Regions from separate parts of the Homo sapiens genome. Here all the other regions are linked to region 2. Evidence: fine-mapped expression QTL. A gene starts in region 2. Each other region holds a variant in brackets. All regions are shown on one strand. Distances are between the middles of the regions. Region 1 overlaps LGALS9B (galectin 9B). Region 2 holds the start of DHRS7B (dehydrogenase/reductase 7B). Region 3 has its middle 13 kb from the start of NATD1. Region 4 overlaps DHRS7B (dehydrogenase/reductase 7B).

Evidence for each region. PIP is the estimated chance that this variant, and not a neighbour inherited with it, causes the effect. A credible set is the group of variants that fine-mapping cannot tell apart.
Region 1: its variant is the best candidate, but not a certain one, in a credible set for the expression of DHRS7B in whole blood (INTERVAL, PIP 0.60).
Region 3: its variant is the best candidate, but not a certain one, in a credible set for the expression of DHRS7B in whole blood (INTERVAL, PIP 0.64).
Region 4: its variant is the best candidate, but not a certain one, in a credible set for the expression of DHRS7B in whole blood (INTERVAL, PIP 0.61).

The regions. Positions count from the first base shown.
Region 1 is chr17:20,459,710-20,466,822 of GRCh38, reverse strand. It overlaps LGALS9B (galectin 9B), which reads left to right. Exons shown (of 11, transcript NM_001367292.2): 2 at 6,380-6,471. Among named protein-coding and RNA genes, the nearest start is that of LGALS9B, 4.3 kb to the left of the region's middle. The variant T/A (reference allele first, on the strand shown) is at 2,854.
Region 2 is chr17:21,122,957-21,130,912 of GRCh38, reverse strand. DHRS7B (dehydrogenase/reductase 7B) reads right to left here and starts at 3,949. Exons shown (of 7, transcript NM_015510.5): 1 at 3,922-3,949. The coding sequence starts at 3,941. RefSeq lists an enhancer at 3,628-4,287.
Region 3 is chr17:21,262,793-21,270,748 of GRCh38, reverse strand. No RefSeq gene overlaps it. Among named protein-coding and RNA genes, the nearest start is that of NATD1, 13 kb to the right of the region's middle. RefSeq lists enhancers at 2,161-2,210, 7,413-7,956. The variant T/C (reference allele first, on the strand shown) is at 3,574.
Region 4 is chr17:21,155,194-21,163,149 of GRCh38, reverse strand. The region is part of intron 1 of DHRS7B (dehydrogenase/reductase 7B); the gene reads right to left. Among named protein-coding and RNA genes, the nearest start is that of DHRS7B, 32 kb to the right of the region's middle. The variant C/T (reference allele first, on the strand shown) is at 3,816.

The DNA.
Region 1 (7,113 bases), 660 kb after region 2:
AAGGGTGAGGCGGAGTTAACCAGGCATAGGCATGTCAGGGCATCTGTAGACGGACAGTCTCAGAGGTGACGGAGGCAGGGACTGTCCCTGCAGTGTGGGGTCAGAGGGCTGCAGGTGCCTTGCTGAAACTCTGTGAGGTTTATGAGTCCCCTTCATTCACGGAAAATCCAAGGTTCAGGGAGGCAAAGGCCAGTTGCCAAATGCCCCCAGATGGGAGTGGCAGCCCCAGGAGCCCAGGAGCCTTCAGGGGTGACTGTGTCCTGGGCTGGGTCCTGTCACAGGATCTCACCCTGCCTTGGCAAAGAGCTTCCCGAGGGGCTGGAGTGGGTGGGCTGATGGGCCCTTCCTGAGTGGGGAGACAGAATGGGGAGGGTGGGCAGAGGCAGGGTGCTGAGGGCAGGGAAGCTGCCAGGGGCCACCTCAGCAGAGGCCAGGGTCGGGCTTGGGTGCCCTCTGGTGATACTGAGTCCAGAATGAGGCTGCCTATGTTCTGGTCTGCAGAGCTCAGCTCTGCTTTCTAGACTCCAGAGAGGAAGAATGGAGAAAGGAGGCCTGTTTCCTCCTGGCTGTCACCAATGACCCCTCAGCCACCCTATGGAAGCCCCCAAGGTAGAACCTGCATAGAGGGAGTGGGGGAAGCTGGAACGGGCTGCCGGTGTTGGGCGAGCCTTAGAGTCAGCGTATGCCACCTTGAGCATGTCACCCCGTTTCTGGTTTTCTGCCAGAGAGGGGATCCCAGAGCTTCTTCCAGGTTCTGACATATTATTATTCTGGTAACTGGTTTTTACTTTCTAATCTTTGGATTCAGAAGGAAAATCCTCCTATGCACATCAGAGAGTTTGAGAGAGTTAAAGCGGGGCCTTGGAGCTCAGACAAGAAAGACGATCAGTGCAGCCCCCACAGGTGTCCAGAGCTCCCCTCTACCCTACGGGGGCTCCCCTGGGTTGGGACACTTGAGCCTCACTCGGTGACCCATCTGGCAGTCGGAGCCACGCTTTCTCCACATGCCGACAGTGGGGGAAGGTCACGCGGTTCACTGTCCTGCTGAGGAGGGCTGAGTGCCATGAGGGCCTGGCTTGGAAACCTCACTCCCACTTCTTGTCTGGCCTCATCTAGCCCAGCCTCTTTGGAGGGCTGGGGGGAAGCTGGAACCACCTGCTGTGTGGCCCAGGAAGCACTGCGAGAGCCAGGAATAAGGACGTTCCGAGCTTCCTCATGAGAGGAAGCCTGTGTGGTGGTTAGAAGCGTGGGTGCTGGGGTTCAAATCCCAGCTCTGTTGCCGACCAGCTGTGTAGCTTTGGGCAAGTGACTGAACTTTTCTGTGCCTCAGTTTCCTCATCTGTAAAAGTGGCCGGGGTTGCTGTGAGGATAAATGTTCCCGGTCACCCCCAGAGCCCTCATGGACACACATGGATCCAAATGCCACAGCAGCCTTAGCTGGCCAACTTAAAACAACACATTTGTGCTTACAGTGTTGGAGGTCAGAAGGCTAAAATCAAAGTGTCATGAAAGGTGGCCAGCAGGACCGTGGAGCCTCTGAGGCAACAGGGCACTTTGGCTAAGGGCCACGTACTGGCTCCAGCTGGCAGGCAGTCTCGGCCAGCCAGGCTGAGCTCCCTACTCCTGGGGCCAGGCCTTGGTGTCCTCTGGTGATGCTGAGTCCAGAATGAGGCTGCCCACATTCTGGTCCGCAGGGCTCAGCTCTGCTTTGACTTCCAGGTAGGAAGAAGAGGGAAAGTCCCCGGTCTCTGGGCACAACCAGGAACAGAGAGCAAGTTCTGACTCAGCAGAGGGATTGATTTGTTCCATGCAAAGAGCTGCACTGTCAAGGCCGACATGGGCCAGAGGCTCAGCACATGGCATCGCACCCCGTCCTCTCAGAACGCTGCCAGCCAGGGACTCAGCACATGGCATTCCACCCAGTCCTCTCCAGAATGCTGCCAGCCAGGGACTCAGCACACAGCATTGCACCCAGTCCTCTCCAGAACACTGTCGGGTGGTGTTACTGCCCTGCCATTCAGAGGAGGGAAGTGGGGCACAGGCAGGTCAAGTGACTTGGCCAGTGTCAGAATTGCTAGTGTACAGAGCTGGGAGGCGAGCCCAGGCCCATGGGACCACAAATCCAACACAAAAATCCATCCTCCTGCACCCTACGGAGCAAAAGTAGGTCCAGTTGTTTTCCTGGGTTTCCTGGACACACGGATCTAAATTCCACAGCAGCCTTGGCTGGCCAATCTTAAAACAACAAATTTGCTTTCTTAATGATTCTGGAGGGCAGATGTTAAAATCATCGTGTGAGCAAGGTTGTTTCCTTCCGGAGGCTCCAGGGGAGAATCTGTTTCTTTTGCTTTTCCAGCTTCTAGAGGCTGCCTGCCTGCCTTGGCTTATGACCCCTCCTGCCATCTTTAAAACCAGCAGCTTTGTCTGGGTGCAGTGGCTCATGCCTGTAATCCCAGCACTTTGGGAAGCTGAGGCAGGAGGATCTCTTTAGCCCAGGAGTTGGAGACCAGCCTGGGCAACAAACTGAGACTGTGTCTCTACAAAGAATAGACAAAAATTAGCCAGGCATGGTGGTGCATGCCTGTAGTCCCAGCTACCTGGGAGGCTGAGGTGGGAGGATCGCGTGAGCCTGGGGAAGTGGAGGCTGCAGTGAGCTGAGATCATGCCACTGCACTCCAGCCTGGGTGACAGAATGAGATCCTGTCTCAAAAAAAAAAAAAAAAAAAAAACACAACAAACAAACAAACAAAACCCCCAAAACCAGCTTCTTGCTTCTGTTGTCACATCTCTTACCTCTGACTTTGATCCTCCTGCTCCCTTTTATAGGACCTTTGTGATTACATTGGGACCACC[T/A]GTATAATCCAAGACAATCTCCCCATGCCAAAATTATGCATTTAATCACATCTGCAAAGTCCCTTCTACAACATATTCACAGTTTCCGGGGATTCGAATGTGGATGTTTCTGGGGGGTCGCCCACTGATAACCAGTATTATAAGTTTCTTGTAAATCCTTCCAGAGATATTTTATCTATAAATAAATAAATGCAAGTCCATAGCCTTCCCCTACCCACTTTTTATGCAAATGGCATTATTCCATATCGGTGCTCAGAGTTTTCCTCTTTTTCTTTTTTCTTTTCCGTCTTCTTTTTCTTTTCTTTTGAAAGCTACACAGAACTTATTCTATTATATGGAAATACCCTAATTTATTTCACCTTTTCCCTGTTGGAAGACTTTTAGGCTCCTTCCAATGCTTTGCTTTATAATCCTTTGTGTTATAATGCTGCAATGAATAACCTTGTTTGTTGGATGATATTCAATTTAAAATCTCATTTTTCAGGACAGGCATAGTGGTTCATGTCTGAAATCCCGGCCCTTTGGGAGGCCAAGACAGAAGGATCACTTGAGCCCAGGTGTTCAAGACCAGCCCTGGCAACATATCGAGACCTGGTCTTTTCAAAAAAATTTGAAAATTAGTGGGGTATGGCTTGGTGGCCTGCACTTATTTGGTCTCAGCTGCTCGGGAGGCTGAGGTGGGAGGATTACTTGAGCACAGGAGGTGGAGGCTGCAGTGATCCATGATCACACTCCTCACTGCACTCCAGCCTGGGCAACAGAGTGAGAACCCATCTCAAAATAAAATAAAATAAAATAAATAATAAAATAATCTTGTTTTTCAGAAATTGGGGGTGCCATTTAAGACATTTTGAAACCTCACAGAACTTTTTTGGGGAACTTGTTGCCTTGGAGATTAGCCTGCCCTGTCCTGCCCCCATGACCTGTACTTGGTCTTTCTCCCTCCTGGCTTCCTTAGTTAAGCCTTGTGTGGACTTGCGAGCCCATGTCCATCACTCTCTGCCTTCAATTCTAGGTGCTGTGGTGTGAATACGCTTGAGTGGAGGCCGCATGCTTCCCAGGAGGGTGTGTATTTTCAGCGTTGTCTCTCATGATAGAATGAAAGGCTCTGGAGGGAATCACAGGCTGCCACAAACAGGCAAGGGGAAAAATCTTCCACAGACGTGTTTCAGGGACAACAGGCTTCCCAATCCTAGCCCATGCTGGCCCATAACTGGATCAGGCTGACTCTCCTTCCCCCACACCGCTGGTGTAGACAGGGACAAGAAAGAGAAGTCAGAGACACAGAGAAGCTGTGATTTGCTTGAGGTCACCAAAGTATTTAATGGCAGAGTTCAGACCTGACCTGAGGGGCAAGAAAAGACAACCCCCTCAAATCCATGGGGAGCAGAGACTATCTGGATCAGATCTCAGATTGCCTGGGGCTTTCACGGTGCCAGGTGTGTACACTGAGCTAGGATGGGTTTCCCAGGGTGCTGTGTGGTCACATAACTCAACAATACAGACCAGAAAGCAGTGACCAGTAGGCTGAATTTGGCTAGTGGGTGTTTTCTGTTTGGCCTACACAGTGTTTACTTTAACTTGTTATTATAGGAAATTCAAACATGCAGAGAGAATTGTACCATCAACAACACACACCCATCACTCTGCTCCAACAATGATCAACTCAGGCCTATCTTGCTTCATCCTGTACCCTCCCTCGCTTGCTTCTCTTCCCACCTTCAGATATGCGGAAGCAAATCCAGAGATTTCATTCCATTGTAAATATTTCATTGTGTATCTCTACAATGTGGGAATTTGGGGAGTTTCATTTGAGACAGGGTCTCGCTTTGTTGCCCAGGCTGGAGTGCAGTGGTGCAATCGTGGCTCACTACAGCCTCGACCTCCCAGGCTCAAGTGATCCTCCCACCTCAGCCTCCCAAGTAACTGGGGTTAAAGGTGTGCACCACCACATCTGGCCAATTTTTTTATTTTTTGTAGAGATGGGGGTCCCACTATGTTGCCCAGGCTGGCCTAAAACTCCTGGGCTCAAGTGATTGTTTTACCTCAGCCTCCCAAAATGCTGGGATTATAGATGTGAGCCACTGTGCCCAGTCAGGAACTTTTACATAATCCTTTTTGACAAAAGATTTCCCCCAAGAAATTAGAAAGTTTTACAAAAAAAAAAAAAAAAAAAAATTCAGGTTTCTGTCTCATCTTAAAAATTTGGAAGTTCTGCCAATACTAAGCCCAGATGGTAATCATTGGTTAGTGCTGAGAAGATGTTGACTTTTTAGATGAGGCGTGTGACGTCTACTTTGCCACAGTCCCCACCACTCCCTACCTGGCCATCTGACTCATACACATCACCTGCCTGGCTTCTTTAGGCATTTAATTTGTGTAGGAAATTGACCTAAAGGAGATATTAGAGAAGACATTAAAAACTTGAAGAATGTGAAAATCAGCCATGAGATAGAACTGTGCTTTAATGCAGGTTATAGAACCACACCGGATATGAGGCATTTCGGAATAAACTTTGAAGATTGGAAGTACCAGTTTGTGAATTTTGCTCAGAGAGACCAAGGTGGGGGTGGGTGACAGTGGTGAAGCGTCTCCTCTGTGCCAGTCTCTTCTACCACAGGCTTTTTCTCACAAAATCATCAATCATATGCAGTAGGAGAAACACCTTCCTATTTTACAGATGAGGAAACTGAGGCAAAGAGAGGTGAAATAGGCTTCCCAAGGCCACTCAGGTCAGGAGCAGCAGAGTTAGGATTCAGACCTGGAGTCCGCCTGACTCCAAAACGATGCATGCCTCACCATGGCCCATAGCTCCTTTAAAGAGGCGCGGAAGAGAGAATTTGACAAAGTGCTTGCCCACGGGGCCTGGGATGGGTGGGGAAACTACGCTGGGGCTCGGGGCTGCGGAGGGCATCTGGGAAGAGGCTCTGCTGAAGGTGGTCAGGAGGGCAAAGGTCATGGTGGCCATTGTTATATGGTGGTGGTGGGGAGAGGTGCATGCCTTCTTCTTGACACTCTCTGGTGACCCTCTCGGTGGAACCTGCAGACCCTTGATGGGTCCCTTTGTTCCCTTGGGCCTCCTGAGTCCCCAGCCAGGGCGCTGGGCACTTTGCTGGGAGCTTGGCATGGGGTCCAGCAGCCCCATTGCTACCTAGTTCCTTACCAGCCCAGGGCGTCTGCCTGCTACTTCCCTGCCTGGAAGGAAGGCCTTCCGCCTGGAGCGTTCCTGGTGTGGCCTCCGCTGCCTCTCAGACTCTCACACAAGCTCAGCTCCCTGTCGCGTCCTCTCAGGGCCAGGATTCTCCTTATCACAAGCTTAGACTGTCTGAGTAACTAATTGGATTTGTGTCTGCCTCCACACAGGACCCTAAGACCCGTGGGGCTGAGACTCCTTCTGTCCTGGTCACAGCTGCACCCTAGCCCCTCGCATGGTGCGGTCACACCCAGGCCAGCCACTGACTAGCCCCGAAGGGGAGCAAACAGGAGGCCGGCCACCTGACTGAGGCCCCATGTCTTCTCCCTGCAGGCCGTCCCCTTTTCTGGGACTATCCAAGGGGGTCTCCAGGACGGATTTCAGATCACTGTCAATGGGGCCGTTCTCAGCTCCAGTGGAACCAGGTGTGTGTATATGGATGGAAACGTTTCACTCCAGCCTCGTCCCTTAGTAAAGCCACTGTGCCTGTGAGCCTCGGTTAGTTCAAACAACAACATCCAAGCTCACGTGCCTGGCGCAGGGGAGACCCAATGCATCCTTAACCCATGCCACAGGACAGCACTCCACAGGCACAACCTGCACCCAGGGATGCCATTAACCTGGACTCCAGGATGAATGGGGCCCTGGGAGCTGAAGGTCTAAGGAAGGAGTGGGATGGTCAGAGTTGGATGATTATGTTCTGGGCTGAACCTTGCACACTGTGACTGAGAGTTGCAAAAATCAAACTTCCTCCGTTTCCCATAACTGCTTTCATCCACTCTGAAGCTCTCCTTCTGCTGACATGAAAATACTGAAAATTGACATCCGAAGTAATTTGGTCTCTTTCGGTTTCAAGGCCTTTTCTGGAAACTACTAAGTCCATTCAAAATACTAACATTGTATCAGGGCTGTTTCCCACCCCTTCCTCCCTCCCAAGGTGGGCTGTCTGGGAACAGAGAGGAGCTCACGTGGCTTGTCAGTGGCTGGGAGGGCCCCCGACCCTCACGCAGGCCTGGCTGACCCCTGCCGAGGCATCCTGACTGGGTGGCACAGAGGTGTGCAGCTCT
Region 2 (7,956 bases):
TACACACCATTCAATCCCAATTTTCACCCTCATGCTTATGGCCTTCCAGAATAGAGAGTTCATTTTTGCATTAAAATAACATTGGCTACCAAAGAAAGGTTTCTTATGTGTATAATGGGGTGGGAATGAATAATTCCTACACCATCCAACATTATGGATGTTGCTCTAGTCCAACATTTTACTGTACTGTAAGTAAATTTTTTTTTTAGTTGTCATGCAAACATATAGTAAAAATTTTAAAACTGAATTTTCACTGTTTCCAAAGGGAAAGAGATCTTCTCTCCTTCCTTTTCCTCACAGCATTTCTTTGAAAAACCCAGTATTTATAAATTATTCCTCTGTCCCTTTGATATGTATGCAAATCTTTTTAAAGGCTAAATAAACTACCCCTAGCTTAGCTTGTTTAAACCCAGTAAATACAGTAAAACCCAGGACTGTTTTTCTGAAGGGCCTGGAACCCCCCCTTTACAAACGTACGTACATACATACGTAAGTTTATTTATTTATTTATTTATTTATTTTTTGAGGTGGAGTCTCACTCTGTAGCCCAGGCTGGAGTACAGTGACACAATCTCGACTCATTGCAACCTCTGCTTCCCAGTTCAAGCGATTCTCCTGCCTCAGCCTCCTGAGTAGCTGGGATTACAGGCACACGCCACCACACATTTTTGTATTTTTAATAGAGACGGGGTTCGCCATGTTGGCCAGGCTGGTCTCGAACTCCTGACCTCAGGTGATCTGCCCTCCTCAGCCTCCCAAAGTACTGGGATTACAGGCGTGAGCCACCGTGCTCAGCCAAACCCCCTATTTTAAATGGAAATATCCAGGAAGACAATGCCCCAGCCCTATCCCTATCACTGTGGAAGTTTAGCCTAGGCACCTCAACTACTTGTTTTATCATAGAGCTGTTTCATGTTTTCCTTTGGAAAAAAGTAACTAGGTAGCACAGATGACCAACCCAATTACCAGGTGAATTTAGAATGAACTATGAAAACATGTACAGCAAATGGTGCTGTCAAGTCTTCTTATAAGAGGACAAATTACCATTAATCTTGAGACTACATAATGGGTTGTATCTGCTCAGCTGCATACAAATAAGTGGTGGGATTTCTTTTCTGAAAGAAACTGCATTAGCATATTATCCATAATACATTCCAGTCTGGTTTAATGCTTATTTTTTTCTTTTTCTTTTTTTTTTTTTTTTTTTTGAGTCAGGGTCTTACTCTGCTGCCCAGGCTGGAGTGCCGTAGTATTATCACAGTTTACTGTAGCCGCAAACTCCTGGGCTCAAGTGATCCTCCTGACTCAGCCTTCTGAGTAACTGGGACAACAGGTACACACCAGCACGCCTAGATAATTTTTTATTTTTTGTAGAAATGGGGTCTCCCTATGTTGCCCAGGCTAGTCTCAAACTCCTGGCCTCACATGATCCTCCCACCTCAGCCTCCCAAAGCGCTCGGATTATAGGTGTGAGCCACCACCTACAGCCTCACAGGGGTCTTTAAGTAACAAGATACAAGCTCCTCCTAGTCTCAAGACCTCACACATGCCCTTCCCTCCTCCTGTTAGCTCTTTGTCCAATTTAACTCCAACTCAGTCCTTTAAGTCTCAGCTAAATATTATTTTCTTGGGAAAGCCTTCCCTGTCTCTCCTCATTTCCCCCTCCGCATGCCGGTGACTCCATTATGTATCCTCACAGCACCCTCTACTGTCCTCCACAGCATGCATCACAATCGTAATTAATATTTAGTTTTATTTATATATTTACTATCTCCCTTGCTAGATTTATAAGCAATTTAAAGACAGGGGCTTTATCTGTTTTGATCATCATTGTATCCACAACACCCAGCACAATGCTGGTACACTGTAAACGTTCAATAAGTATCTGAAGGAATGAATGAAATTTGTAGCTAAGCGCTAGGTTCTGGAGTGACATGGCATTGGATCGGCCTTTACTAGCTCTATGCCTTTGTTGTTGTTTGTTGTTGTTGTTGTTGTTGTTTGAGACAGGGTGTCACTTTTTTTTTTTTTTTTTTTTTAAGACGGAGTCTCCTCGCTCTTGTCGCCCAGGCTGGAATGCAGTGGCGGCATCTCGGCTCACTGCAACCTCTGCCTCCCAGGTTCAAGCGATTCTCCTGCCAAAGCCTCCCGAGTAGCTGGGATTACAGGCGCCCACCACCACGCCCGGCTAATTTTTGTTTGTTTGTTTGTTTTGAGACAGAGTCTCACTATGTCGCCCAGGCTGGAGTGCAGCGGCGGGATCTCGGCTCACTGCAAGCTCCGCCATCCGGAGCACGCCATTCTCCTGCCTCAGCCTCCCTAGTAGCTGGGACTACAGACGCCCGCCACCAAGCCCAGCCAATTTTTTTGAATTTTTTTAGTAGAGACGGGGTTTCACCGTGTTAGCCAGGATGGTCTCGAGGTCCTGACCTCGTGATCCGCCCGCCTTGGCCTCCCAAAGTGCTGGAAATACAGGCGTGAGCCACCGCGCCCAGCCAATTTTTGTATTTTTTAGTAGAGACGGGGTTTCACCACGTTGGCCAGGCTGGTCTCGAACTCCTGACCTCAGGTGATCCGCCCGCCTCAGCCTCCTAAAGTGCTGGGATTACATGTGTGAGCCACTGCGCCCAGCCAAGACAGGGTCTCACTTTGTCACCCAGACTTGAATGCAATGGCGTGATCTCGGCTCACTGCAGCCTGTCTCCCAGGTTCAAGCAATCCACTTGCCTCAGCCCCAACAAATAGCTGGGACTACAGGCGTGTGCTACCTTGCCTGGCTAATAGCTCTATGCCTTTGGATAAACTTCTTAACATCTCTAAGCCCATTTCTCCCTCCATAAATAAAAATTATAGTTCCTATGATTAGGGTTATTACAGGATTGAATAATTCAGTAAAGGGATTAGTACAGTGCCTGTAACATAGCAAACACTCAAAAAATATCAACTATTATTAAGGAATGGAGAAAAGGGGACATGTACATGGTAGGGAAGGCATATTCCACACCCTTGGCAAAGGCACAAACATAGCTTCCATTATGCAAACACACCGTTGCAATCGGCAACAGTGTAAGCAAGAATTCTGCTTACTAAATGTATGAGTGTGTGAAACCCAAACGTTACTTCAAAAGTAACTTCACGATTCTCCAATCACTACATGGAAGGTTTGGAAACTGAAAAAAAGAGCATTATGTGGCTACCATTTGTTGAATACCTACTATGTGCCAGACACCAGCTGAGCACCTTGCACGCGCAGTCTCATTTACGCTTCACAACAACCTTATGAGTGGGCTTGTTACTCCCAAAGTTACAGCTGAAGAAACACTCAGAGTTTAAAACATTTGCCCAAAGCCGCACAGCCAGGAAGCCGCAGAGTAAGTATTGGAAGAGCAAGATATCTCAACCAGCCATTCCCGTGGACGCTCGAGTCAGCACCCTCCTCCTGCCTTCTGAAAAACCGGACTTCCTTTGCTAGTCCTAACTCGCCGTCACTGGCTAAGGTGCCACTGGCCCCCAGCGCTCAACCCTCGGTCCTGCCACTCGCAGACGCTGCGGAGCCTCCCCTACGTCGCGCAGAAATGTGGGAATAAACAGGTTGAAGCCAGGAGCCCTGTGGGCGCGAGGCCTTTCACACACAGCGCCCGGCGCGACACCCATTCCCAGCAGCGGAAACTGGACTCAAGACACCTCGGCGACAGGCGGGTTTCCCCGCCACGCACTCGCCGGAGCCAGGGCTCTGGTCCCAGCGCCTGGGCTGAGTCTTCCTTCAGAGTTCGGCGTCGCGGGGATCCGGAAGCCGCCCAGGGCCCGCGGCCTTAGCTCGACCACTACACCGCTTCCCCTCACCCAAGCCGGGGCGTCGCCTCAGCTCAAGGCCAGACCCTATCGCCTCATCTCGGAGGTTCCTTCTTCCCCAGCCCCTACCTGGTAGCCGGAGAGACCATAGTCAATCAACTTCATCCTCCCGCCTCGGAAGTGACGTGTACGCAGCCGGCGAGGCTCCGTCCAATCCCAGCATTGAGGCTGCGCATGCGCGTTGGGTGGGCGTCCCTCAAGGTGTACACAGGACCCGATGGACCCGAGATCTGATAGGGTCCACCCGCATAACTACAGTGCCTTCATCTTCCGGAGGGAAATTCCGAAGGTCGTGGTTGGTGTTCCGTGGACTTCCGGCGAAGAACACAGTTGGAGAATTCACGATACAGTTATCAAGATGATTATAATGCCACAGTAATCAGAACAGTGTGATAACTGGCACAAAGGTAAAAACAATGAATGAAAAAGAGAGAGACCAGAAACAGACCTGCAGCTATGTAGTCACTTTTTCCTCCTACAAGTAGCCACTGTAATGCAATAAGAAGAGTTTTTTCAATATATAGTGCTAGGTCAATTGAAGGTCGATTGGGGGGAAATGAACCTTGACTCCTATCTCAAGTAAAATAATTCTAGACGGATGGTAGACCTGAATGTGAACAATACAACTCTAGACAATAAAATCGCAGAATATTATGACCATAAGAGAGGAAAATAACGTGTTAGCAGAACACAAAAAGTGCCAGTCCTAAAGGAAAAAGCTGATAAATTGGGTGTCTGTAACTATAAGACACCGAAAAGACCCCATTGAGAAAAGGGAAAGACAATAGAACAGACAAGATATTTGTAATACATATATCTGAAAATGAATTTTATTCAGAATATGTACGTACTTCTTGCAAGTAAATTTTTTAAAGGACCCGAAGTGATTTAAAAAAAAAAAAAAAGCATGAAAAGAGGATATTGAGAGAGTAAAGGGCAGAGGAAGGAAGGGGCAGGGCAGAGGAAGGAAGGGGCGGGGGGACTCTTATCGTTCAAAATCATAAGATGGCAAATGTGTGTAAGGTGGAAAATCTCCCTTTCTGTTCTCCAGGACCCACTTCACCTCCCCCTAGGTAACGATGCTATTAGCTATGTGTGTCCTTCCAGAGCCAGTTTATTCATAACCAAGCAATTATGTATGTATTCAGCACCCCCTTGTTACACAAACAATAGCATTCTGAAACGTCCTTCTGTTTCTTGCTTTTATTAACTTTAGCGAATTAATATATCCTGGAAATTCTTACAGATATTCACAAAATCTGAAAATGGGAAATTTTATTTTTAACTAAATATTTATTTTTGACGTTTTCACAAAAGTTTTTATACCTTTCTGGCCCCTCTCCATTGTTCTGGAAACTCTAGATTCCTGCTTGCCAATTCACAAAGTTTGAATATCCTTGTAGCAAACCCAATATGAACCGTAAGGCAGAAAAATAGGGTCTGGAGACAGGGAACCTAAGGCCAATTCACGCTGACTTCCTAGAACTAAATCAAAAGGAAAACCCGAACTTTCCATGCCCAGGTAACAAAAGGAACAGAAGCTAGTCCCTTTGCAACCTGCCCCGCTTTTCTGCCTGGCAGATGAAAAATTGAAGGTACCTCTGATTGGTCCCCTCTTGCAACCAATCAGGCTGATCACAGGCCACTACTTCTTTTACATAGAGTGTACACCAAGTAACCAACGGGAACCCTCTAGAGGGTATTTAAACTCCAGAAAATTCTGTAACCGGGCTCTTGAGCCACCTGCTAGGCAGGCTCCCAACCTGTGGAGTGTGCTTTTGTTTTCAATAAATCTCTGCTTTTGTTGCATCATTCTTTCCTTGCTTTGTTTGTGCGTTTTGTCCAATTGTTTGTTCAAAACGCCAAGAACCTGGACACTCTCCACTGGTAACACCTGAGTCTTTATTGCATGACTAAGTCAGTTTCCTGGGGTTCATTTCCCAGGCCTGCTACCCTCTTAGCCTACCCACTCTTCAATCCTGCATGGAATTTGTTTTAGAAGCAACTCAATATATTTCAAAGTTTTGGTAACCAATTTGAATTGCATCTGCCAAATGCAAGTGTAAAAACTCTAACTTCGCAGCCAGGATATTATACAAAAAGGATTCCAGTGGGCCGGGTGCAGTGGCTCACACCTGTAATCCAGCATTTTGGAAGGCTGAGGCAGGCGGATCACCTGAGGTCGGGAGTTTGAGATCAGCCTGGCCAACATGGGGAAACCCCATCTACTAAAAATACAAAAAAATCAGCCAGGCATGGTGTCGTTTACCTGTAGTCCCAGCTACTCAGGAGGCTGAGGAAGGAGAATCACTTGAAACCAGGAGGTGGAGGTTGCAGTGAGCAGAGATCATGCCACTGCACTCCAGCCTGGGCAACACAGCGAGACTCCATCTCAAACAAACAAACAAAACAAATAGATTCCAGTGGTTAGCACAGTTCCATGGCCTTCTATGAAAACAAGATGGAAGATTTTTGTTTCCAGGAAGATGAACTAGACACAATTTTCCCTATTCCTTTTACTAAGTACAACTAAAAATTGTGGGCATTATATATAAAACAATCTAAGACTCCAAAAGTTGGAGAGAAGGCAAACCAGCTAGCCACCCTGGGACGCAAGGAACAACATGGTGGGTGTTGCCTTATATATCCCAGACTGGGTGCTAGGAAGCAAGCAACCTGGAAATGCCGACAGGCAAAGACAATGCCCTAAGAAAAGCCTTCTCTCTCTAGCCACAGGACCAGGAAATGGGCAGCCTCAGAGGACAGAAAACGTTTACACAATAATGGCTCTAATCCAGCCCAAACCACAGAAAAAGCCCCATCCCCATGCTTGCCTCTTGGAAAGCCTAGACTGCCACGCATGCTAGGCTGTAAAGAGGCACCACTGTCCCCTCTCCCTGGCATGGTGTCAGAGAAGGCCAAGTGGAGGGCTGGATTTTCTTTTTATTTTTATTTTTTATTTTTTCTTTTTTTTTTGAGACGGAGTCTGGTTCTCTCACCCAAGCTGGAGTGCAGTGGCACAATCTCGGCTCACTGCAACCTCTGCCTCCTGGGTTCAAGCAATTCTCCTGCCTCAGCCTCCTGAGTAGCTGGGATTACAGGCTCACGCCACCACGCCTGGCTAATTTTTGTATTTTTAGTAGAGACGGGGTTTCACCATATTGGCCAGGATGGTCTTGATCTCTTGAGCCTGTGATCCACCCACCTCGGCCTCCTGAAGTGCTGGGATTATAGGCGTGAGCCACCGCGCCCGGCCGAGGGCTGGATTTTCATTCCCACTGAGAGGTGAGGAGACTCTCCCCCAGCATGGTATCAGTGGAAACCATATGGAGAACCTGGACTTCTACCCCACTTAATTGTAAGAAAGCACTCATCCTCTTCCCTGGGGTGATGTCAGAGAGAGTGTTCCATCAAAGCCACCCCCAAAGCCACCCCCAAATGCCCAAGGAGCTGAGAAAACGTAGGAAGCAGACAAATCCAGTTTGTCCATATAGGATAATTATTAGAGGGAGCTTACAGACAGAAGCATGGTCTTGGGTGTCCACAAGGCAGGTGGATCTCCACACAGTAGCCCCGTAGAACCAGGGCTTATATCTTGGGGAAAAAATATACTTACTCTTGGAGGAATGTGTAGATGGTTGAGAGAATGCTGTGGGTGTCACAACCTATGATTTCTGCAACAGCATCAAGGGTTGTTTCTGTAAAAAGGCAAAAGTTACAGTGAATAGGTGATCCGGTATAAAGAGTAATACATCAACTAGACATTTTGGAGGCATTCCTGGAATTGGAGTTAGCGGATTCGCATTGAAAATAGTCACTCTTGTCCCCATAGGGAGCCAAGTGGAGAGTCAGGACTTTCAACGTCACTCAGTTGCAACAAAGCCACCTCCCACCCCACATATCAGTGGAGGTCCCCTCCCCATCCCAGCAAGGGTGGTATCCCTGGAGGCCAACTGGAGAGCCTGAACTCCCACTTGTGCCAAACAACCTCCCTCCACGTGTCAACAAAGGCCAAGTGGAAAACCTGGACTTCCACCCCTACTTGGCAATAATGAAGAGGCATCCCCTTCCCCTGCCAAAGTGGGTCAGGAAGCCTGCTAAAAC
Region 3 (7,956 bases), 140 kb before region 2:
GGCGGATCACCTGAGGTCAGGAGTTTGAGACTAGCCTGGCCAACATAGTGAAACCCCGTCTCTACTAAAAATACAAAAATTAGCAGGGCATGGCGGCAGGCGCCTGTAATCCCAGCTACTCGGAGGCTGAGGCAGAAGAATCGCTTGAACCCGGGAGGCGGAGGTTGCAGTGAGCCAAGATCGCGCCGTTGTACTCCAGCCTGGGCGACAGAGCAAGATTTCGTCTCAAAAAAAAAAAAATTAGCTGGGTGTGATGGCACCAACATGTGGTCCCAGCTGTTCGGGAGGCTGAGGCAGGAGGATCACTTGAGCCTGGGATTTCAAGGCTGCAGTGAGCCATAATCATGCCACTACCCTCCAGCCTGAGTGACAGAGCAAGACCCTCTCTCAAAAATAAATAAACAAAGAATTTAAAAAAATTTAAAAAAAGATAATTCCAGGCCGGGCACGGTGGCTCACGCCTGTAATCCCAGCACTTTGGGTGGATCACGAGATCAGGAGTTCGAGACCAGCCTGACCAACATGGTGAAACCCCGTCTCTACTAAAAACGCAAAAATTAGCCGGGCGTGGGGGTGCGCACCTGTAATCCCAGCTACTCAGCAGGCTGAGGCAGGAGAATCGCTTGAACCCAGGAGGCAGAGGTTGCAGTGAGCCGAGATCGCGCCATTGCACTCCAGCCTGGGTGACAGAGTGAGACTCTGTCTCAAAAAAAAAAAGATAATTGCAAGTATTGGTGAGGATGTGCAGAAACTGGAACTCTCATACATTGCTGTGGGAATGTGAAATGGTAGGATCACTTTGGAAAACAGTTTGGCAGTTTCTTATAAAGTTAAATACACCTACTTAGGACTCAGCTATTTCACTTCCAAGAGAAATAACTGTGTTTACACACACACACAAACCTGAACACAAAGGTTAGTAACAGCTTTTTCCATAATAGATAAAACCTAGCAAGAACTCAGCTGTCTATGAACTTGGAAAGGGATAAACAAAACATGGTATATATCCATCAATGCAATACTACTCGGTGACAGGAAAGGAATGCACTCCCAAAACATGCCACAGTGCAGATGGAGCTCAGATGCATTCCGCCGGAAAAAAAAAGCCAGATTCAAAAGGCTACCTACAATACGATTCCATTCACAGGACGTTCTGGAAAAAGCAAAACCACAGTGGCACAGAGCCATCAGTAGTGGCAAGGGACTGGGGTGGGGAGGGGATCAACTGCAAAGGGGCCCGAAGGAAACTTGGGAGTGAAGGAAATGTTGTGTATGATGATTGTAGTGGTGGTTACACAACCGTATACATGTGTCAAACATCATCAAACCATGCGCTTAAATGGCTGCATTTTATTGTATGTAATTATCCTTCATTAAAGCTGAGGGAGGAGCAGAGAAGTCCTTTCAATGAAGGGAAAAAACGGTGAGCATTTGGGGCCATTACTGCCATGTTACACACAAGAAAACTAAGGCTCAGGGGGTGACATGATGGGCCCAAGGTCAAGGAGAGAGAGAGTCTGTGGTGAGACCGGGATTTGCCTGCACTCTCGCCCTCAGGACTCTGCCCTGCATTTGCTGTATGATTACAGGCTGGTCTCAGTTTCCCATTCTTTAAAATGGGTAGGGGGATGAGCAAAACCCAGGCCCTCTCAGGCGATGGAGCAAGAAAACCCACACCCACATAATGGTGGCACTCAGAGGGACTGCGGGAGCCACTGGGTGGTGACTGACCCAACCTGGGCTGAGGATGGGGGAAAGCTCCTCAGAGTGACGATATTTAACCTGGGCTTCAGAAGATGAATAGGAGTTTGCCAATTGGAGTGTAGGAAAAAGGACATTCCAGACAAGGGGTGAGAATGTCCCATATATCTCCCCAGTCGCTCTGCCTCTTGCTGCCTGAAATTCCACTAGTTTATGCCATCCCTCAGGGCCAAAGCCTGGCTAGTGGCAAACCCTGACAGGAAGAGACACGCAGAAACCTATACAGAGGCTGGAGGGAAATAGCAGCAAGGCAGGGCGGGGGCCATGGCAATTGCTGGAGATTCTGAGATTCCAGGGACTGCAGGGACAGAGGAATATGTGACAGAATTGATCGTGTGCAGGGCAGCAGGGCAGGAGCCTTCTCATGGGTCACCTCATTAACTCCTCACCCCTGGAGCAGCACAGAGAGGTCAGATGAATCACCCAAGGTCACACAGCAAAACTGGGGGCCAGGCCGGGCCTGCTGATCCAAAGCCATTGCCCTTGATCTAGGGATCGGAGGAAGGTGGGGGCCTAGGGACCAGTTTCCCACCCCAACTCAATGTGTGACTCAGGCAAGTAACTTCTGCTCTCAGGCCCTCAGCTTCCACCTCTGTGAAATGGGCTGTAACAGAACCACCCTCACAGAGCTCTGGCAGGAAGAGAAAAGACAAAGGGACAGGAAGTGTCACCTCAGCCTCTCCTGCCCAAACAGCTGCTTGCATGCGGTGTGAGGAAAACAGAATTAGGGAGGGAAGTCCGCTCTGAGAAGAGACCCTCCCTCCACCTCTGGGCCTCAGTTTTCCCATCTTGCATTGAGGGAGGATTGGGCTGAATGACATGTCACAAACCAGGGGCCATTTCTAGCACCCATATGTTTTGTTTCACCCCTGTGGTCACTTTTTCCCCCCTTTCCTCTGAATTTTTATTATGTAAAATTTAAGCACACAGGAAGTCAAAAGCAGAATCCACAGCTGCCATCTGGTGCGACCTGCCCGGTGCTGACAGCTCTGCCCACGTGCACACTCCCCTCTCTACACATAGCTATGTGCTGTTTTCGGAATCTTTTTTTTTCTTTTTTTTTTTGAGATGGGGTCTCGCTCTGTCGCCCAGGCTGGAGTGCAGTGGCATGATCTCGGCTCACTGCAAGCGCCGCCTCCCAAGTTCACGCTATTCTCCTGCCTCAGTCTCCCCAGTAGCTGGGACTACAGGCGTCCGCCACCATGCCCAGCTAATTTTTTGTATTTTTAGTAGAGACGGGATTTCACTGTGTTAGCCAGGATGGTCTCAATCTCCTGACCTCGTGATCGGCCCGCCTCAGCCTCCCAAAGTGCTGGGATTACAGGTGTGAGGTACCACACCTGGCCCTGAATCATTTGAAAGTAAGTTACTGGCCAGAAGCAGTGGTTCACGTATGTAATCCCAATGCTTTAGGAGGCCAAGGCAGGAGGATCACTTGAGGCCAGAAGTTCGAAACCAGCCTGGGCAACATAGCAAGGCCTCCTCTGACTCCTCGATCTTTATCTAAAAATCATTTAAACAAAAAAAAGAAAGTAAGTTTTTGACTTTGTGACCTTTTGCCCCTAGTCCATCAGCATGCACTCCCTGAGAAGGCGGCCGTTCTACAAGACCATGATACGCTTACCTCACTGCAAAAAACACTGTAATTCCACAGATATCTAACACACAGTCCACATTCAAGTTACCCAGTTGTCCCCAAAATGTCTTTTATGGCTGGACTTTTTGTTTCAAACTAAGAGCTAGCCAAGATTCAGATGTTACATTTAGTTTTATCTCTTTCAGAGTGAGCAATTTGCTCTTTTTTTTTTTTTT[T/C]TCCCTTCAGAGAGAGTCTTGCTCTGTCGCCCAGACTGGAGCGCAGTGGAGCGATCTTGGCTCACTGCAACCTTCCCCTCCCGGGTTCAAGTGATTCTCCTGCCTCAGCCTCCCAAGTAGCAGGGACTACAGGCGCCTGCCACCATGCCCAACTAATTTTTGCATTTTTAGTAGAGATGAAGTTTCACCATATTGGCCAAGCCGGTCTCGAACTCCTGACCTTGTGATCCACCCGCCTCAGCCTCCCAAAGTGCTGGGATTACAGGCATAAGCCACCGCACCCAGCCTGAGCAATTTTCTTATTTTGAAAAAATTAACACCTCCAAACAAACAGCCAGAATCGTGGGTGAATCTGTACATGGCCTTTGCCTGGACCTAGCAAGGGTTTCCCATTTGCCAGAGTACCCCTCTCCCTCCCTGTCTCTCTGCCTCTCTCTCTCTCTCACTCTCCCGACCATCTAAGTTAGCAGCAGACACACCTACCTGTGTTTTAAAATCAGTTGGCATTTATTTATTTGTTTGTTTACTTATTATTTATTTATTTATTTTTTAAGACAGAGTCTTGCTCTGTCACCCAGGCTGGATTGGAGTGGTGCCATCTCTGCTTACTGCAACCTACGCCTCCCGGGTTTAAGTGATTCTTGTGCCTCAGCCCCCTGAATAGCTGGGACTACAGGCATATGCCATCATGCCCAGCTATTTTTTGTACTTTTAGAAGAGACGGGGTTTTGCCATGGTTTGGCCAGGTTGGTCTCAAACTCCTGGCCTCAAGTGATCCCCTCTGCCTCGGGTTCCCAAAGTGCTGGGATTACAGGTGTGAGCCACCTCGCCCAGCCTATTTATTTTTGAAACAGCGTCTCACTCTGTTGCCCAGGCTGGAGTGCAAAGACTTAATCTGCTCACTGCATCCTCAACCACCCAAACTCAAATGATCTTCTTACCTTGGCTTCCCATCCCAGCTAATTTTTGTATTTTTTGTAGAGGCGGGGTCTCACTATGTTGCCCAGGCTGGTCTCAAACTCCTGAGCTCAAGTTATCCGCCCACCTTGCCCCCCCAAAGTGCTGGGATTATAGGCATGAGCCATCACACTCAGCCAAAATTAACTGCCATTTAAACATCAAGAAGTCTCACATTTTTATTCGATTTCCAGCTCCTGTTGAAAAGCAGAAGACTTAGCCCAGGGCTCCCTTGTGGAACAACTTGCTGGAAGGAGCAGAAGCTGCCCCTGGGACAGACCAGGTGGTCCCACTTTGCCACACTCCACACTGCTCCCTCTGTCTGACACCCAGCCATTTCTTGCAATCCTGTAACCTGCCTGGGTCCTGCACCATGGAATTTTTTACCCTCAATTAATTCCACATAATCTTTTTTTTTTTTTTTTTTGAGATGGAGTTCTGTTCTTTTGGCCCAGGCTGGAGTGCAATGGCGCATCTCGGCTCACTGCATCCTCCACCTCCTGGGTTCAAGCGATTCTCCTGCCTCAGCCTCCCTAGCAGCTGGAATTACAGGTGCCCACCACCACGCCCGGCTAATTTTGTATTTTTTAGTAGAGACGCGGTTTCACCATGTTGGCCAGGCTGGTCTCGAACTCCTGACCTCAGGTGATCCGCCCACCTCGGCCTCCAAAGTGCTGGGATTACAGGCATGAGCCACCGTGCTCAGCCAATTCCAGAGAATCGTTAAGAGCCTCAGGTCTCTTCAGGGTGGGGGAGGCACCTTATCCTGGGGAGGCAACTGCCCATCAGTGCCAGTGGCTTCACAATGCATTGACTTTGTAGCCACTTGTTCTCTGCTCAGGAGATCAGACTCCAGACTTACCCCAACTGGGGTTCAGATCCAAATTCCAAGAGCTACCACCAAGGAGACTTTTGGAAAGTTCTCAGGCTCCTCAGAGCCCAGTCCCTTCATGAGTGCAACTCCTGCTTCCGAGGGTGGGTGTGAGGACTGGATGAAAGAATTCCCAGGAAGCACTTAGCATGGCACCTGGCCTAGGAGGAGCCCTCGGGTCTCATTTTCCTGAGAAGACAATCAGGTGGGTGGGCGGAAACAAGTACTAACACACTCATCCATCGCAATGCAGTGAAACACTGGAAATTATCAAAATCCCAACAAGAGGGAACTGGATAGATCATGAACATATCCCTGAGATGAAAGAATCAACAACTGAGACAAAGATGCTGTATTTTGAAATTACCCAGATAGCCATCGGTAAAGGACTGCTGTATCCAGGAGAATGGTTAGGATCTTTCAGCTGTGAGTGCCATGTCCCTCCACTCCGTGGACCGCTGTGCTATAGGGAGAGACAGACGGGTCTCCAGGAGAGACTGCTAAGTGATATGCCAACTTGTGGGTTAAAAGTGGGGGGGAAGAATATATATTTGTATTCACTTGTATTTATGTGTGGAAAACACTGGAAGAATTCATGAGAAACAAGTAAAAATGCTTCCCTGTGTGAAGTGGAGGAGCTCTGGGCAGAAGGCAGATGGCAGACAAAGGCAGTGGGTAGATTTTTTCTTGGTACCCACATACACTTCATTTTAGTTTTTGAAACATGAATATATTACCTAATCAAAATTATCTTTTAAAATATTCTTTTTGGGGCCGGGCGTGGTGGCTCACGCCTGTAATCCCAGCACTTTGGGAGGCCAAGGTGGGCAGATCACCTGAGGTCAGGAGTTCGAGACCAGCCTCAACATGGAGAAACCCCATCTCTACTAAAAATACAAAATTAGCTCGTCATGCTGGTGCATGCCTGTAATCCCATCTATTCAGGAGGCTGAGGTAGGAGAATTGCTTGAACCTGGGAGGCGGAGGTTGCGGTGAGCTGAGATTGCACCATTGCACTCCAGCCTGGGCAACAAGAGCGAAACTCCATCTCAAAATAAAAAAATAATAAATAAATAAATAAATAAATAAATAAATAAAATATTCTTTTTTTTTTTTTTTTTTTTTTTTTTTTTGTAGAGATGTTTCCCAGGCTGGTCTCAAACTCCTGGCCTCAAGCGATCCTCCTGCCACAGCAGGAAGTGCTGGGATTACAGGTGTGAGCCAGCCCACTCAGCCTAAAAATATTCTTATAGAATAATTCTGTGGTTTCCTATATATTAACAAAGGAAAATGATCACAGCATATTGTTAAATTGAAAATAAAAAACAAGCTATAAAACAGATAATCTGATTTGATTACAATTTTGTTGGAAAACTTTTTTTTTTTTTTTGAGATAGGGGCTCCCTCTGTTCCCCCAGGCTGGAGTACAGTGGTGCGATCTGGGCTCACTGCAACCCCTGCCTCCCGGGCTAAAGCGATCTTCCCACCTCAGCCTCCCAAGAAGCTGGTGCACACCACCATGCTTGGCTAGTTTTTGTATTTTTGGTAGAGATGAGATTTCACCATGATGCCCAGGCTAGTCTTGAACTCCTGGACTCAAGCAATCCACCTACCTCGGCCTCCCAAAGTGCTGGGATTTCAGGCATGAGCCACCGCACCCAGCCTTGTTGGAAAACGTTCTATTTGCACATAAAGAGCTCCATGTGTGCAGGGCTTTGTCTGTCTGTTCACGCTGTGTTCCCAGAATCCAGAACATACCTCAATTGCTCAATAAGCACCGTGTGAGTGAGCAAGTGCATGAGTCAATTAGTGAATGAATGAGTAAATGAGTACATGAATGGATGGTTACAGGATCAGGAAGATGTCTGAGGGCATGTGGCCAAACTGAACAGTGGTGGATTTATGACTTTTATCTTCTTGATATTTTTCTGTGTGTTCTGAAAATTTTAAACGAGCACTCCTCATGCTTCTAATCAGAAAAGAAAAACAGTAAAGGCAGGCCAGGCATGGTGGCTCATGCCTGTAATCCCAGCACTTTGGGAGGCCGAGGCAGGTGGATCACTTGAGGTCAGGAGTTTGAAACCATCCTGGCCAACATGGTGAAACTCCATCTCTACTAAAAATACAAACATTAGCCAGGTGTGGTGGCACGTGCCTGTGATCACAGCTACTCAGGAGGCTGAGGCAGGAGAATCGCTTGAACCTGGGAGGCGGAGGTTGCAGTGAGCCGAGACAGTGCCACTGTACTCCAACCTGGGCGACAAGAGCAAGACTCTGTCTCAAAAAAAAAAAAAAAGAAAGAAAGAAAAGAAAAACAATAAAGGTATGGAAAGAAAAAGCAAATGCTCTGTCTGCAGGTGTCAGGGCACTGGGGTCTGGGCAAGGGAAGGGAGTAGACTCACTAGGAAGAAGCTTGGGCTGGTGACCAGCACGCGTCCCACATGCCTTGCTCACACTATTCTGCCCCAGCAGCAGAGCCAAGATTCCCGGGGCGGGCAGCTCAGCAGCACAGAGAATCAGGGCTGCAGGAGCCCTGTGAAGGGAAGATGAGGCCC
Region 4 (7,956 bases), 32 kb before region 2:
ATCTCGGTTCACTGCAACCTCTGCCTCCCGGGTTCAAGCGATTCTCCTGCCTCAGCCTTCTGAGTAGCTGGGATTACAAGTGCCCGCCACCACAACCAGCTAATTTTTGTGTTTTTAGTAGAGACGGGGTTTCTCCATGCTGGCCAGGCTGGTCTCGAAGTCCTCACCTCAGATGATCCACCCACCTCAGCCTCCCAAAGTGCTGAGATTACAGGCGTGAGCCACTGTGCCCGGCCTAAACCTGTATTTTAAATGGTACCAAGCATGTTCAAGAAATATTAAATAATAATTTTAAGAGCCTTCATTATAGAAAACACTCTCAATGCTAAATACTTTTTGATAAGTAGAAAGCAGAAGAAAAATTGGGTCTCTAGAAGTTCGTTCTTGCCTGCTGTCCTCTTTGATAACTCCTATCCAATCTTCAAGTCCTGCTTGGGCACCATCTCCCTGAAACCTTTCAAGCCACCCAGCAACCCTGCCCTCCATATCTGGACAGGGTTAATCACTTCCTTTTCAGTGTAGCCTCCATAGCATCTCACAAAACATCACAATGATTTCCCTTCACTGCCACGTGCCTCCCAAGACAGCAGTTCTCTGAGGGTCTGGCCTTTTATTCTGACTCCCACACCATCTATGTGGTGAGAACTTCATAAATGTTTGTTGAATAAGATTGTATCATGGAAATAATCTAATCCAATACCATCAGATTACAGAAAAAAACAGAGCCCAGATGTGTTGTTTTATTTGCCTACACTCAGTATTAAACAGAATCCTGAAGAACAAATGTTCTCACAGTCCATTTTAACTATTTGCCAGTTGCCATAAGAAAAGCAAACATTCCTGCAGCTTTATCTCAGCAAAATATCACTAAAACGAATTACGGCAAACAAATCACATCCCAGAGCAAAAGTATGTCATTCGCTAGGGATTAAACATTAAATGTTGCTTAATTTCATGTAGTCTCATGGTTGAAATCATAATACTTTGAATTCTAACAAATTCCTGTCTTGGTTTCCTCACAAAGTTAGATAAATCATCATGTCTCTGTTGGCTCCCTTTCTCTCAGACAAATGTGCCTTACTGTAATTTATCTAGGATGATGGCTCACCCTGAATTCCAAGTTATTTTTAGAGCTGTGTGAAAAACATTTTTGTGAAATTTAACTAGAAAATGCTCTTTATTCTAAGGGAGGTTTTGAAAGTTTATATAACAACTCTCCTGAAAACGTTTAGTACACTGACTTTTAATGCCAGCAAACACAGAGGAGGAAGGGCACATGTGGGAAGAACTGACTGGGAAGCAAAGTGTCATGAGCTGAGAAGGCTGTGCCACTCCCAACATCTATGATTTCATTTAAAAATAGCCTAGCAGGTGCCCTATCACTTTCTTTTACCAAGCGTCCTAGCAAATATTTCCTGAGGACACGGCTGTGTCTCTTTCGGACAGTCATACAGTAAGTAATCAATCTATTTCACCCACTGTTAGATTTCCCACTTTTCTTCACAGATACATGTCTTCTCTTCTTATTTCTCTCACAAGGCCCTCTTCCTGGGGATTCAAGATAATGTCTGGAGTCATTTCCTTTTAGCCTAAAGGACTTCCTTTAATACAGCATTTCTTGAAGGACAAATCTACAATCTACCAATTATCTCAGTCTTTGTTTATATGGGAATGTCTTTATCTTACCTTCAATTTTGAAGGATAGTTTTAGATACAGAATTTCATGTATATTCTTTGAACATACTGTTCTACTGCCTCATAGCTGCCATTTTTTTATTAATAAAATTTCTAAGACAAACTTTAGGTACACAGGAAAACTGAGCGGAAAGTAGAGTTCCCATACACCCCTGTGTCCACACAAGTACAGCCTCCCCCATTATCCACATCCCTCACCGGTGTTACACTGTTAAAACCCATGCGCCTATGCTGTCACATCATTGTTACCCAGAGGGCAAAGTTTACATTAGTGCCCACTCTCAGTGCTATGCATTCTCTTGGTTTGGACAAATGTATACTGACATATATCTATCATTGTAGTTTCATACAGAATAGTTTCACTGCCCTAAAAATCCTCTGTGCTCCACCTATTCATCTCTCCCTCCTCCCCAACCCATGAACCTTTAACTATCTCCACAGTTTTGCCTTTTCCAGAATGTCATATACTTGGAAACATATGGTACATAGCCTTTCCGGATTGACTACTTTCACTTAGTAATATACATTTCAGTTTCCTCCATGTCTTTTCATAGCTTCATAGCTCATTTTTTTTTAGTACTGAATAATATTCAGTTGTCTGGATGTACCAGAGTTTATACATTCAAAGACATCTTGGTGGCTTCGAAGTTTCGGCAATTATGAATAAAGCTGCTATAAACATCTGTGTGCAGGTTTTTGAGTAGATATAGGTTTTCAGTTTATCTGGGTAAATATCAAGGAGTGTGATTACTGTGGTGTATGTTAAGAGTACATTTCATTTTGTAAGAAACTACCAACTGTCTTCCAAAGTGGGTATAGCATTTTGCATTCCCACTAGGAATGAATAAGAGTTTCTATTGCTCCACTTCCTTGCTAGCATTTGGTGATGTCAATGTTCTGGATTTTGGCCATCCTATTTAGTGGTGGTATCTCACTGTCATTTTAATTTGCATTTCCCTTATGAAATATGATGCAGAGCATCTTTTCATATGCTTATTTGCCACTTGTATATTTTCTTCACTCAGGTCTCTTCAGATCTTTTGTCCATTTTTTTTTGTTGTGTTGTTCATTTTTAATTTTTTAAATTTTTTTATTTTTGAGACAGAGTCTAACTTTGTCACCCAGGCTAGAGTGCACTGGCATGATCTTGGATCACTGCAACCTCCGCCTCCTGGGTTCAAGCGATTCTCCTGCCTCAGCCTTCCGAGTAGCTGGGATTACAGGCCCACACCACCATGCCCGGCTAATTTTTGTATATTTTTTAGTAGAGACGGGGTTTCACCATGTTGGCCCAGCTGGTCTCGAACTCATGACATTGTGATCTACCCACCTCGGCCTCCCAAAATGCTGGGAATACAGGCGTGAGCCACCACGCCAGGCCTAATTTTTGTATTTTTAGTAGAGACAGGGTTTCACCATGTTGGCCAGGCTGGTCTTGAACTCCTGACCTCAAATGATCCACCACGTCAGCCTCCCAAAGTGCTGAGATTACAGGCATGAACTACCATGCCTGGCCCTATTTTTCATTGATGAGTTTTAACAGTTCTTTGTATAATTTAGACAATAGTCCTTTTTTTTTTTTTTTTTTTTTTGAGACAGGGTCTTGCTTTGTGACCCAGGCTGGAATGCAGTGGCTCACTGCCACCTCAACTTCCTGGTCTCAAGGGATTCTCCTGCCTCAGCTTCCCAAGTAGCTAGGACTATAGGCACACACCACTGTGACTAGCTAACTTTAAAAAAATTTTTGCAGAGACAGGGTCTTGCCATCTTGCCCAGGCTGGTCTCAAACTCCTGAGCTCAGTGATCCTCTCATCTTGGCCTCCCAAAGTGCTGGGATTATAGACATCAGCCACCATTCCAACTGATAACAGTCCTTTAAAATGTGTCTTTCGAAAATATTGGCCGGGTGCGGTGGCTCACGCCTGTAATCCCAACATTTTGGGAGGCCAAGGCAGCAGGATCATGAGGTCAGGAGCTTGAGACCATCCTGACCAACACAGTGAAACCCCGTCTCTACTAAAAATACAAAAAAAAAAAAAATTAGCCGGGCGTGGTGGTGCACTCCTGTAATCCCAGATACTCAGGAGGCTGAGGCAGGAGAATCACTTGAACCCGGGAGG[C/T]GGAGGTTGCAATGAGCCAAGATCACGCCACTGCACTCTAGCCTGGGCGACAGAGCAAGACTCCGTCTTTAAAAAAAAAAAAAAGAAAGAAAGAAAAAGAAAATATTTTCTACTAGTCTGTGGTTTGTCTTCTCATTCTCTTGACACAGTCTTTCTCAGACTAGAAGTTTTTAATTTTAATGAAGTCCAGTTTATCAATTATTTCTTTCATGGATCATGCCCAAAAGTCACCACCATACCCGAGGTCATCAAATTTTCTCTTATGTTATCTTCTAGCAGTTTCATGGTTTTGCATTTTACATTTAGGTCTATGATCCATTTTGAGTTAACTTTTGAGAAAGTTGTGAAGTCTGTGTTTAGATTTTTTTTTTTTTTTTGCATGCAGATAGTGTTTCAATCTGCTGAAAAGACTATCTTTTCTCCATTGTCAAACATCAGTTGGCTCTATTTATGTGAGTCTATTTCTGGGCTCTCTATTCTGTTCCATTGATCTACTTGTTGTTTCACCAATATCACTGTCCTGATTAATGTAGCTTTATACTAAGTCTTGGAGTCAGGTAGCGTCAGTCCTCTAACTTGTTTCTCCCACAATATTGAGTTGGTTATTCTTGGTCTTTTGCCTTTCCACATAAACTTTATAATCAGTTTGTCAATATCCATAAAATGACTTGCTGGGATTTGGATTGGGATTGCATTGACTCCATAGATAAGCTAGGAAGAAATTATATCTTGACATTATTGAGTTGTTCTATCTGTGAACATGGAATATCTATTTAGTTGATACATTTCATCACAGTTTTATAGTCTGCCTCATTAAAAAACCTGTTCATACTTAATGTCTTTTTAATTTCAAATTCTACTTGTTCACGGCTGGTATACAGAAAAGTGATTCATGTTTATACATTAACCTTGTATCCTGCAACTTTGCTTAGTTTCTTATTCTTTCAGAGTTTTTACATAAATGATTGCCATCTGTGAACAAATACATTTTCATTTCTTCCTTCCCAATCTCTACAATTTTTATTTCATTTTCTTGTCTTACTGCACTATATAGGACTTCCAGTATGATGTTAAAAAACAGTAATGATTCAATATGAGATTTGGGTGGGAAAAATTTTTTTTAAAGCAGTGGTGAGAGGGAACATCCTTGCCTTGTTCTTGATCTTAGTGGGCAAGCTGAGTTCTTCACCATTAAGTATGATGGCTGTAGTTTTTTTTAAGTATTTATCAAGTTGAGGGAGTTCCCCTCTACTCCGATTTGCTGAGAGTTTTAATCATGAATCAGAGATAGATATTGTCAAATACTTTCTCTGCAGCTACTGATATGATCATGTGACTTTTTTTCCTCTTTAGTTTGTTGATGTGATGGATTATTATTATTTTTTTTTTTCAGACAGGGTCTCACTCTGTCAACCAAGCTGGGGTGCAGTGGTGCAATCTCAGCTCATTGCAGCCCTTACCTCCCAGGCTTAAGTAATTTTTCTGCCTCAGCCTCCTGAGTAGCTGGCACTACAGTAGTGTGCCACCACACCTGGGTCATTTTTGTAGAGATGGGGTTTCACCATTTTGCCTCCCAAAGTACTGGGACTACAGGAATGAGCCACCACCTCCAGCCAGATTACATTAGTTTTGTTTTGTTTTGAGACAGGGTCTCACTTTCTTGCCCACACTGGAGTGCAGTGGTATGATCACAACTCACTGCACCCTCAACTGCCCAGGCTCAAGCAGTTCTCCCACCTTAGCCTCCTAAGTAGCTGAGACCACAGGTGTACACTACCACACCTGGCTGATTTTATTATTTGTAGAGATGAGGTCTTGCTCTGTTGCCCAAGCTGGTCTTGAATTCCTGGCCTCACGCAATTCTCTCACCTCAGCCCTCCCAACGTGCTGGGATTACAAGCATGAGCACTGTGCCTAGCCTGATTTGAATATTGAACCAGACTTACACATCTTGGATAAATCCCACTTGGTCATGGTCTTGGTCATTTTCATACATTATTGCATTCAATTTGCTAATATTTTTTGAGGATATTTGCATCTATGCTCATGAGAGACATTGGTACATATTTTTATTTTCTTGTAATATCTTTGGTTTTGGTATTAGGGTAATGGAAGTCTCATAGGTTGAGTTAGAAAGTATTCTCTCTGCTTCTACCTCCTGGGAGAGATTGTAGAGAATTGGTATAATTCTTTCTTAATTATTTGGTAGAATTCATCAGTGAATCTATCTGGGCTTGGTGCTTTCTGTTGGGAAAGTTATTATTATTGATTCCATTTCTCTAATAGATACAGGCCCATTCAGAGTGTCTATTTCTTATTGCGTGAGTTTTGGCAGATTGTCTTTTCATGGAATTGGTCTATTTCATCTAGGTTATCAAGAAATGGGCACAGAGTTATTCATAGCATTCTTTTTTTTTTTTTTTGAGACAGAATTTTGTTTTTGTCACCCTAGCTGGTGCAATGGGATGATCTCAGTTCACTGCAACCTCCACCTCCCAGGTTCAAGCGATTCTCCTGCCTCAGCCCCCCGAATAGCTGGGATGACAGGTGCATGCCACCACGTCCAACTAATTTTTGTATTTTCAGTAGAGACAGGGTTTCACCATGTTGGCCAGGCTAGTCTCGAACTCCTGACCTCAGGTGATCCACCTGCCTTGGCCTCCTAAAGTGCTGGGATTACAGGCATGAGCCACCACGCCCGGCTTATTTTTTTTATTATAATTATTTTTTGAGATGGAGTCTCACTCTGTTACCCAGGATAGAGTGCAGTGGTGCAATATTGGCTCAATGCAACCTCTACCTCCCAGGTTCAAGCGATTCTCCTGCCTCAGCCTCCCAAGTAGCTGGGATTACAGGTGCACAACACCATGCCTGGCTAACTTTTGTATTTTTGTAGAGATGTGGTTTCACCATGTTGGCCAGGCTGGTCTCAATCTCCTGATCTTAGGTAATCCACCTGCCTCTGCCTCCCAAAGTGCTAGGATTACAGGCGTGAACCCCCACGCCCGGCTACATTTATTATTCTTTTGATGTCCATGGGCTCTGTGGTGATGTCCTTGCTTTCATTTCTGATATTAGTCATTTGTGCCTTAGTTTTTTAGCTAACTTTCTTAGCTGGACTAGAGGCTTATTGATTTTATTTATTATCTTTTCAAAGAACCAGCTTTTAGTTTTGTTGGTTTTCTGTACTGATTTCCTATTCTCAATTTCATTGGTTTCTGCTCTAATTTTTATTATTTTTCTTCTGCTTACTTTGGATTTAATTTTCTCTTCTTTTTCTAGTTGCCTAAAGTATAAACTTAGATTGTTGATTTTAGATCTTTCTTCTTTTCTAATACATACATTCAATGCTATAAATTTCCCTCTAAGCACTGCTTTTGCTGCATTCTACAAATTTGGTAAGGTTTTCATTTTCTTTTACTTCAAAATATTTTCAGTTTTCTCTTGAGATTTCTTCTTTAACCCATGTGTTATTCACAAGTATGTTGTTTAATCACTAACTATTTGGGGGATTTCCAGTTATCTTTCTGTTACTGATTTCTAGTTCAATTCCATCGTGGTCTGGAAGCAGACAATGTATTTCTGTTCCTTTATATTTATTAAGGTGTGTTTTGTGGCCTAGAATGTGGTCTAAGTGAATGTTTCATTCACTTGGGAAGAATGTATAATCTGCTGTTGTTGGACAAAGTAGTTTATACATGTTAACTATATCCAATTGACCGCTGTTGAGTTGAACTATGTTCTTACTAATTTTCTGCATGCCAAATCTGTCTTTCTGATAAAGGAGCATTGAAGTCTCCAAATACAATAGTGGATTCATCTCTTTCTCCCTGCAGTTCCATCAGTTTTTGCCTCACATATTTTGATGCTCTATTATGTGTATATACATTAAAGATTATTGTCTTATTGGAGGATTGATCTGCGGTCATAATGTAATGCTCTTTAACCCTGATAACTTTCCTTGCTCTGTAGTCTACTCTGTGTAGAAATATAGCTACTCCCACTTTCTTTAATTAGTGTTAGTATGGTGGATCTTTTTTCATCTCTTTATGTTTAATCTATATGTGTCTTTATACTTAAAGTTGGTTTCTGGTAGACAACATATATTTGGGTCTTATTCTTTGATAAACTCTCACAATCT